3 separate regions of the Homo sapiens genome follow, and all the other regions are reported to be linked to region 1. Evidence: microRNA targets listed by miRTarBase, many of them from high-throughput screens and not tested one by one. Region 1 holds a microRNA gene; each other region holds the end of a gene's coding sequence.
Evidence for each region. Region 1 holds the annotated microRNA hsa-miR-370-5p (CAGGUCACGUCUCUGCAGUUAC, at 2,078-2,099, opposite strand). A microRNA usually pairs through its seed, bases 2 to 8, with sites in the 3' UTR of a target mRNA and lowers its output. Matches are read on the target gene's strand: a 7mer-m8 pairs with bases 2 to 8, a 7mer-A1 pairs with bases 2 to 7 and ends in A, and an 8mer does both.

Region 2: the mRNA of FCHSD1 is a reported target of hsa-miR-370-5p. Seed matches in the 3' UTR shown: 7mer-m8 at 1,174-1,180.
Region 3: the mRNA of DNAJC19 is a reported target of hsa-miR-370-5p. Seed matches in the 3' UTR shown: 7mer-A1 at 1,011-1,017.

Annotation. Positions count from the first base shown.
Region 1 is chr14:100,909,993-100,913,249 of GRCh38, reverse strand. MIR370 (microRNA 370) reads right to left here and starts at 2,111; the gene lies at 2,037-2,111. It overlaps MEG8 (maternally expressed 8, small nucleolar RNA host gene), which reads right to left. Exons shown (of 51, transcript NR_146000.1): 8 at 2,946-3,017.
Region 2 is chr5:141,638,750-141,642,006 of GRCh38, reverse strand. It overlaps FCHSD1 (FCH and double SH3 domains 1), which reads left to right. Exons shown (of 20, transcript NM_033449.3): 19 at 250-305; 20 at 444-2,705. The coding sequence ends at 509. RELL2 (RELT like 2) reads right to left here. Exons shown (of 7, transcript NM_173828.5): 2 at 3,147-3,212; 3 at 2,986-3,052; 4 at 2,358-2,543; 5 at 1,712-2,087; 6 at 1,562-1,595; 7 at 943-1,336. The coding sequence ends at 1,563. Among named protein-coding and RNA genes, the nearest start is that of RELL2, 3.4 kb to the right of the region's middle.
Region 3 is chr3:180,981,876-180,985,132 of GRCh38, reverse strand. It overlaps DNAJC19 (DnaJ heat shock protein family (Hsp40) member C19), which reads left to right. Exons shown (of 6, transcript NM_145261.4): 6 at 423-1,424. The coding sequence ends at 493. It overlaps FXR1 (FMR1 autosomal homolog 1), which reads right to left. Exons shown (of 17, transcript NM_005087.4): 17 at 2,380-3,257. Among named protein-coding and RNA genes, the nearest start is that of DNAJC19, 6.2 kb to the left of the region's middle.

The DNA of each region.
Region 1 (3,257 bases):
AATTCACCACTCTAATCAAAAACAAGAATCATGACTCTCACAAACATATGTCCCTGTGCATCTTACCCAAGAAGGAACCAACCCAGATATTCTTCCTAACGGATGCAGATGACGCAGACTTGGAGTGACAATCATATTTGATTCCTACTCACCCTTTTCAATGTTTTCATTTATTTTTTTAAATACAACAAACACAGATGAACCCACCACTGACCCAGACCAAAAATATTGATTAGTACATCCAAATACTTCTTATCCACTGAGGTCAAAGTCTTGTTTTATTTTATATAGTCCACAATTGTACACAAATGGATAAATCTTAATCTTTAGGTCATAAAACACTGTCTTTGTGGTCCATTCTTGACATTCTTTCATTTCGTCACTTTTGTACTCATCTAATTCATTTTTGACTATGCAGCCACTACACTTGAAGTCACCATTTAGCCCAAGACCAGTGACTATTCTGTATACCTGTTGATACACTTCCTACCCTCAGCCTCAACAGCCTAGAACCTGGCTTTTGTTTTGGAATAACCTCACAGAAGCAGAGACTAGAAAGGTAGTTACTAGGGGTCAGGAGTGAGAGGAATCTGGAGATCTTAGTGAGAGGATGCAAACTTAGGAGTAAGATGCAGTTAGGAGTAAGTTCTGGTAACCCAATGCAGAGTACGGTGACTATAGTTAACAATAATGTATTTCATGCTTGAAATTTGCTAAAAGAGTAGACCTTAAGTATTCTCACTGCACACATGGAAAAACGGAACTACATGAGGTGATGGGTATGTTAATTCGCTTGATTATGGTAATCATTTCACAATATATATGTATATCAAAATGTCACACTGTACAATTTAAATACAATACAAATACATACAATACTGATTTATCAATTATATATTTATAAAGCTGGGGAGTGAGGAACACATTGCCATCATTGGTACATGCTTGGCTGTCTCTGGTTTTATTTACGCATTCATTCATTTTTAACTGTTCAATCAACACCCACAAAGCCGGCTTTTATTTGTCTGCACTCACCTTCTCTGGGAGAGAAACCCCAGTGTGCCCATTCTATGGAACATAAAGCCGGTTAAAAAAAGAAAATAGCCTACGAGGCCTTTTTTGTTTGTTAATATCAGGTTACCAGACCTGGATTAGTCATAATCCTTTGCCCAGAACACATTCTCAGAATTGTTCCATTCGAGGCCTTTATTACCTTATTTCTTTATTCCTTGATTATTTTTAATAACAAAATTAATAGCCACGAACCACTCTGATTTCTTTTTTTAATGCCCCTCAGTTGTGAAGAATTAATCACCATCCCTGGTTTACAACCCACTCCCGTCCTTGCTGCTGGCATGTCTCTCTCTTCTTGTATTGATTGTTAAAACCACCCACGAGAATTACCACTGGTGGTCCCCACCTCCATCCCTCCCCCTCTCATGCCCCTGCCTCCCTCTACCTTAAACAATCACTCCCAAATCTCCTGGATACAATCCCTTTCCAGATATATATATATATAAATTTACAACATATATGTAATATATGTATTCTTAAATATTTTCCATGGGTCAGTGGCTTGCAGGAGTTTTCAGTGAAGGCTAAAGAGAAGGGTCGAGGGAGAGTGTGAAATACACAAGCTTGAGTTCAGAGTACACCCACTGCTGGGGGGATTGGTAAAAGCCCTCAAACCCAGATCACTGAGCCATCTGCACCTGCGCACACACCACGAGCCAGTGGGCCCAGTGGTTGCAGCACATATGCTCACACCTCAGTACCCACCTCCCAAATCCAGCCTCAATGCCAGACGAGCTGGGTGACATCAGCAAAGCAAACTAACGTCTCTGTGCCTGTTTCCCCATCAGCAAGATAGTTGCAGTGGGGGGTCCCCAAGCAAAGTTATGTTATTATTTTCAAGCCAATGGCAACCAGGTTAAAAAAAAATACAAAAAAACCCTCCATCCCACCTCTGAGCCCCCTCCCTCACCCAAATCTTGGCTCCCTCTGCAGCAGCGCCCGAGCTCTGGTGTTAGACAGACAGACAGACCAGGTTCCACCCCAGCAGGCACTCGTGAGCTGTGTAACTGCAGAGACGTGACCTGGCTTCTCTGTCTTGTGCCCCGACTTGTACGGTTTGTAGAATGAGGAATGCAGCGCCCTCGTGGGTCCAACCGGAGGGTGACCTGAACTATCGCCCATCCCTCAAGTAGCCCGCCTTGCACACCTGCGCACACCCCACCCTTTCCCCGTCCCATGACGCCCAGCCCACTGCTCAAACAGTCCCCAGTTTGATCAAAGAAATGAATTAGTTCAATGCTCAGATCAAGCCAAGGGTTTGGGACTCGGGCAGGGAATTGTTCGGGCATGTTCTTTTTTGGACATGGCATCAGAGCTTAAACAAATACACTGAAAAACAGAAATCCAACTAAGGGATGTGCTTTGGAAAATGAAAATTCATTTTGTGAAGTGGGACTGCCCTTGGGGAAGTCTATGCAGTGAGATTCTTGATGTTCAACTTGATTCCAAGAAACCAAAAGAGGCTTCACTATGGGCCTTACCAAAGATACACAGCCAGTTTCCTTCTTACCCCTCCCCCCAGCTTGTCCTGGGTGTGTACCACCTGCCACAACTGGCCTCAGAGCAACTCAGGGACCTGAAAATAATTCTATATATTATATAGAGTTATGGTGTAGGTGTATAACGTCATTTACACATCAATCTGTCCATTGGGGGACTGTCATGAGGGAGTCGTGGGAAGACCACCAGTGTGGGGACCTGCCCCTGCCTTCTTCATACTGTGAGGCCTTGGAGAAGGCCTGTCCCCTCCCTGAGCCTCAGGTGGCGATCGTCCCACCAGCCTTTCCTCCCTCCTAAGTGGTGTGAAAATGAAAAGCATAACATTTTAAGTGCAAGTTCCCTCCAAGCAGCAGGGATCATTAATATTGTACCTCCTGTACCCAGCACGTAGTGTTCACAGCATGCCTCAGCATACATTATCTCGTTTGATTCTCACAACAGTCCTGTGAATTAGACATAATAATCATAATTAGCCAATATTTATTGAATGCATACTCTGTACCAAGCACCACACTGCCTACTTTGCATACATTGACACTCCTCTGGGGTGGATACAATTCAATAGTATCTCATAAATTTTTCCCCAAAATTTCTGAGCATGCACTTTGTATTGTTGCTGGGTCTAAGTGCCAGGGATACAGTAGTGAGCAAAACGGACAGATCCCGGTTCCATGAGAATTAAC
Region 2 (3,257 bases), not on the chromosome of region 1:
TCTTGACAGCCATTGGGGGTGGGAGCACTATGCATCCTATCTCCCTTAGTTTTGTACCTTGAGCAGAGCTGATTATACAGCAGTTGCCCAATAAATGTTGAGGACAGTGGATAGAGTGATGGATTTTATGGTCTAGGATGGTGACCATTAATTTAACAAATATTTATAGAATGCCACTGTCCTAAGTGCTGGAGATACAGCATTGAACAAAACAAAGTCTGAAGACTGACTTGTGGTTCTTATTTCCAGACAAAGCCCTGGACTTCCCTGGGTTCCTGGACATGATGGCACCTCGACTCAGGCCGGTAAGGGCCCTTGCCTTGGAGGAGATTGTATGTAGAGGGGTTATTCCAACCAGTCCTGTTTTGTCTGCAGGGCTGAGGGAATAGACAGGGATACCCTTAAGGGAGAACTCTGGAGCACTAACTGTGTGTTCCCTACAGATGCGTCCACCACCTCCCCCGCCGGCTAAAGCCCCGGATCCTGGCCACCCAGATCCCCTCACCTGAAGGCCAGGGAAGCCTTGACCCCCAGTGATGCTGCTGTCCCTATCTTCAAGCTGTCAGACCACACCATCAATGATCCAGAGCAACACAGCCAAAAGCTGGAATCGCCCTTATTTCCACCCTCACCTCCAAGGGTGGAAACTTGCCCCTTCCCATTTCTAGAGCTGGAACCCACTCCTTTTTTTCCCATTGTTCTATCATCTCTAGGACCGGAACTACCTTCTCTTCTGTCATGACCCTATCTAGGGTGGTGAAATGCCTGAAATCTCTGGGGCTGGAAACCATCCATCAAGGTCTCTAGTAGTTCTGGCCCACCTCTTTCCCCACCCTGGCTCCATGACCCACCCCACTCTGGATGCCAGGGTCACTGGGGTTGGGCTGGGGAGAGGAACAGGCCTTGGGAATCAGGAGCTGGAGCCAGGATGCGAAGCAGCTGTAATGGTCTGAGCGGATTTATTGACAATGAATAAAGGGCACGAAGGCCAGGCCAGGGCCTGGGCCTCTTGTGCTAAGAGGGCAGGGGGCCTACGGTGCTATTGCTTTAGGGGCCCACCACGGGCAGGGGCCTGCTCCCAGCTGCCACGCTCTATCATATGGAGCGAGGTGTTGGGGAAGGCGGGGCAGGCAGCCTGTTGCAGGCAGGGGAAGGAGAAGAGACTGAGGGGCTGTGACCTCTCCTGAGGCCCCCAGCCTGAGACTGTGCAACTCCAGGTGGAAGTAGAGCTGGTCCCTCAGCTGGGGGGCAGTGCTGTCCAGTGGAGGGGAGGGCTTTCACGCCCACCCACCCCCTGGCCCTGCCAGCTGGTAGTCCATCAGCACAATGAAGGAGACTTGGAGAAGAGGAAGAATAACACTGTTGCTTCCTGTTCAAGCTGTGTCCAGCTTTTCCCCTGGGGCTCCAGGACCTTCCCTACCTCCACCACCAAACCAAGGGATTTATAGCAAAGGCTAAGCCTGCAGTTTACTCGGGGGGTTCAGGGAGCCGAAAGGCTTAAATAGTTTAAGTAGGTGATGGGAAGATGAGATTACCTCATTTAGGGCTCAGGCAGACTCACCTCACATACTCCCTGCTCCCTGTGGTAGAGACACCTGAGAGAAAGGGGAGGGGTCAACAATGAGAGACCAGGAGTAGGTCCTATCAGTGCCCCCCAGAGTAGAGAGCAATAAGAGCCCAGCCCAGTGCAGTCCCGGCTGTGTTTTCCTACCTGGTGATCAGAAGTGTCTGGTTTGCTTGGCTGCCCATTTGCCTCTTGAGTGGGCAGCCCTGGGCTTGGGCCCCTCCCTCCGGCCCTCAGTGTTGGCTCTGCAGAAGCTCTGGGGTTCCCTTCAAGTGCACGAGGGGTTAGGCTGCTGTCCCTGAGTCCTCCATTCTGTACTGGGGGGCTGGCTAGGACCTGGGGCTGTGGCCTCTCAGGGGGCAGCCTCTCCATGGCAGGCATCCCTGCCTTGGGCTGCCCTCCCCCAGACCCCTGACCACCCCCTGGGTCCTGTCCCCCACCAGAGCCCCAGCTCCTGTCTGTGGGGGAGCCATCACGGTGTTCGTGCAGTCCATAGCGCTTCTCAATGTGTGTCACCCGGAACCTGGGAGGGGAGGGAACACTGGGGTTTAGGACCACAACTCAGAGGCTGCTTGGCCCTCCCCTCTGACCAGGGACATCCTGAGTTTGGTGGCTACTTCCCTCTGGCCTAAGGTAGGGGAGGCCTTCTCAGATTGTGGGGCACATTGTGTAGCCTGACTTCTGCCGGAGCTCCCAGTCCAGGAGGAAAGAGCCAAGGCCCACTTTTGGGATCAGGTGCCTGATCACTGGGCCCCCTACCTCAGCCCCCCTTTCCCTGGAGCACCTGCCCCACCTGCCCACAGAGAACACAGTGGTCTCCCCTGTCCGGGGGCGGCTTTTTCCTTCCTTGGAGCGTCCCTGACGGACAAGTGGAGGCCTCTTGCTGCGGCTGCAATGGAGGCAAGGGGCTGCAGAGCCCAGGTGCACTGTGTGATGATGGGAGGGGGCTCCGTCCTGCAGGCTGGAGGTGGCATCCACACTGGACAGCAGGGAGGAGGGGAGTGAGGGTAACATTTCCATTTCCCTTCATGTTTTGTTTCTTACGTTCTTTCAGCATGCTCCTTAAAACCCCAGAAGCCCCAATTTCCCCAAGCCCCATTTTTTCTTGTCTTTATCTAATAAACTCAATATTAAGATGTTAGTGACCATATGTTCTTCCTCCCAGGGCTGTTTGCTAAAAAGAACACTGCTTAACCCAAAGGAGTGGCACTAGAGGTGAATGTTAGGCTTGATGATATCTAGATGAGAGAGATGGTTTGAAGGAATCGCGATTTCTACAAAACAACTTTCTTCCTATAAGTTAGCCAGCTTTGCCCTTCCCCCAACCCCATACATGCAAGGAGGCTGGGAGAGGATTGTGCTGGAGGAGAGGATACTCTCCAAGGCAAGCTAAGTCATGCTGGCCCTTGTTTCCAGCTCACCTGGACAGCTGCACTGTCCCTTCTCCTTCACTGTCCCCCAGCATCTCCTTCAAGGCCTCAGCATTGGCTGAGGGAAGAAGGAAAAGAGGGAGTCAGTGGAGGTGGAGGTCAGGGCAAGAGAAGGTTGGAGAAGAGGGAGCAAGGGGCTATGCTAGACCCACCTTCATTCTGGATGATGCAGCGAACAATCCTCTCTACTGTGTCCTCATTCATGTCATCGTCCTCAGCTGAAGGATGAAAGAGATTGGCAAGGAAGCAGGAATGAGTCAGCT
Region 3 (3,257 bases), not on the chromosome of region 1:
ATCTTTCCAGTAAACAGCTCAGAAGCCTCTGAGAATATCATGGTATTAAAATAACATGGTATAATTGATGTTCATTTATGACCTGTAATCATGAATAGGCTAACACCAGTTCAAAGGCATATACATATATATCTAATATATATGATAGAAATCCTATTTCTATCAGTTTAAGCTTTCTAAAAAGGTGTTATTTTTGTAGAAATATCTCCCACGTAAATTACTTCATTTCTCATTGGTCACATATATTACCATATATTTGGTCATCCAGTTGCAGTGTCAGGGTTATTTTTTAAAAATTAAAACACTGTTTCTGCTAAATCTCCCTCAGATAAGCATTGGAGTCCTTGAAACAAGAGTAGCTTTTTACCAAGCAGAAATTGAGAATCCATATTGTAACTGTTCTTTTTTCTTTCTTCCTATAGGAGGATCTCCTTATATAGCAGCCAAAATCAATGAAGCTAAAGATTTACTAGAAGGTCAAGCTAAAAAATGAAGTAAATGTATGATGAATTTTAAGTTCGTATTAGTTTATGTATATGAGTACTAAGTTTTTATAATAAAATGCCTCAGAGCTACAATTTTAAAAAATGATTTAGCACAAGCTAAATCTCAAAGCCTTGGTATAATTTTCTTGTTTAAATTTGGGGATTTTAAATCAGATTATAGTTTAGAATATTTGCGTATTAATTATGGGCAAGCACACACCTTCTGAATAGAAATATTGTTCATTACTCATTTAGCAGATAATTTGGGACCTATGTCTACTTTTCAAGGCAAAGTGAAGATGACAGTCCTTGCTCTCAGGGAGCCCCCACTTTAATGGGAGACTGATAAACTGGTAATTAGACTGTGATAAATAGTATGATGGAAATTAGCTTAAGCTGTTTAAGTAGGGACTCTTCTTATTCGGTGGAAAGGCTGTTCCAGGTACAGGCAACTGGCCTGGCAACTTGGATACTTGGAACCTTGTATTTAAAAGTGAATTTAACCACAACTGAGACCTAAGAAATTGACCTAGGGGTGTGTGTGTGTGTGTATTCTATGTACATATAAACCATTTTTATTTCATGCATTAAAAATAGTATGATAAAGATTTCAGAGTACAGGTCTGGTACAATCACAGTTCATTGCAGCCTCAACCTCCTGGGTTTAAGCAGTCCTCCCGCCTCAGCCTCCCAAAGTACTGGGATTACAGGCATGAGTATTTACATTGTATTCAGCTAGCCCCTTAAAGGTAATGACCATTTATAAATTATTCCTTCAGTTGGCTATTTCTTGACATAATCAAACTTCTGCAATTGTTATGATTAAGCTTAAACCCTGTTAGCAAAACTGAAAACTGAAATGTTCTCAATATCAACATATTTAATTTGGACTCTTTAGAATTTATACACTAATAAATTTAAATGATGTTTAAAGGCAAATTACTTACTGTTTGTCTAACATAAAATATATAAGGATCTTAAGAGGACCTGTATAAAACATCTGGTATAAACTAGTATGTATTTCTCAACAGGAGTATTTCTTATGTGTAGCTCTAAGATGATAAATTATACTACCTACCGTCTAAACTTCCTTAAGTCATCATAAGTTTCTTAATTATTGGAGGATACAAGGACTTTTGAGGTTAAAAAAATAGTGGAGGTAATATTTATCTGCCTTATAAAGTAAAGGTATATCTGCTCTTTGTGTTTTCTATCCAATACCCTCGTTTAAAATCTGATGGAGTCTGTTATGATTTAGTGTATGATGAAACACTAGCTTCTAAGGCTTTTATGCAGGATAAATTATTTCCAGGGACAAGGAGACATGAAAGTACAGCTGGTTCTTGTTTGTGGTAATTCTGTTCTTTAAGGTGGCTATGAACACTGAATTAGCAAATAAGGAACAAGTTCCTAAGAGAAATACAGATTCTGTGACCCTTTGGTCACAATATTGTCTGCCAGTCAGTATATAACCTTGATCGACCTGTTTCTGCTTGAAAACATTCTTTAGTATTTCATTAACTTTCAATTAACAGCCAACAGCACTATAACTAACTCATGCTTGGGACATCACGGCCTTCTTTGCATTTGGGAACACTAGGTAGCATGCTTCACTACTACTCTTAGGAACCATCTTAAAACAGCAAAATCACCAACAAAAAGCACAAACATGAAACTTGGCACTAAATAGACCACAAAAAGGATATCTGTTTATGGTGTGAGAGCTTAAACAAGGTAGAGCATTGCCTTGTGCACATAAAGTGGTTTAAATTTTTTGTCACTCTGCAAATACTCACAAATGACCAGAAAAGGATGTTGATTTTGGAGTTACAAATTTTAGTGAGTAGGCAAATTCACAGATAAGGAATTCTACTAATAATGAGGATCAACTGTATTTTGGTTTACTAACCTTTTATTTCAGTCCATTGGACAAATCAAAAAATGTTTCTCTGAACAAGAGCTTTATGAAGAAATAGTTGAGACTTAAAAGAAAATTTTTCAAAGACAGATAGTGATAATATGCCGACAGGCAATGAAGCATTAACTCTAAAAAGGGAAATTTAACTTAATAGGTATAAATACTTTTGAGGGTTCAGTGCAAACAACATACCCGTTTTAAGACAGGTGTTAAGACAATGGAAACCACTTAAAAATACCAAGGAGCACAGCAGAGCACATTTTTTTCTTGCATAGTAATCAGTTTTATTTTCTCCAGGCTTACCTTTTTTAAGTAGAAGAATCCGTGTTTCATTGAAGGCTATTAGGCAAACTGAACATTTAAATGTTATCCATGTGAGGGCTCTAGATCATGTAGGTGATTGATACAAATACGATCCATAAAAAAACTTTTATCTTTTGCTGGTATTTTCTTACAAAATACTTGGATCTGTAACATTTGAGTACTTACAGTGTACTAGCACTGTGCTAAGTATTCTTCCCTTATCTCAGTAGACTAGTTATTATGATGTACATTTTACATGTGAGGAAATGGAAGTTTAGTAAGGTTAAGCAGCCAAGGCAACATGCTGAGAATGGCTGATCTTTCTCAGATCCTGAGTTCCGTTCTCTTAACTTTTTGTACTATGGCCTTCACAATTCTGATAACCTAAGCATGTTTTCCTTGATAGTACTGAGATGTGAGTCTAGTACTTATCTCTACAGATCTAGCTTGGGGCCTTTGTCTTTACTCATTGGTGCTTCCAGATATATTTTAAAGAAGGCGGCATGATTAAACACACTTTGGGAATGAGAGGTAGGTTACAAGTTAAACTT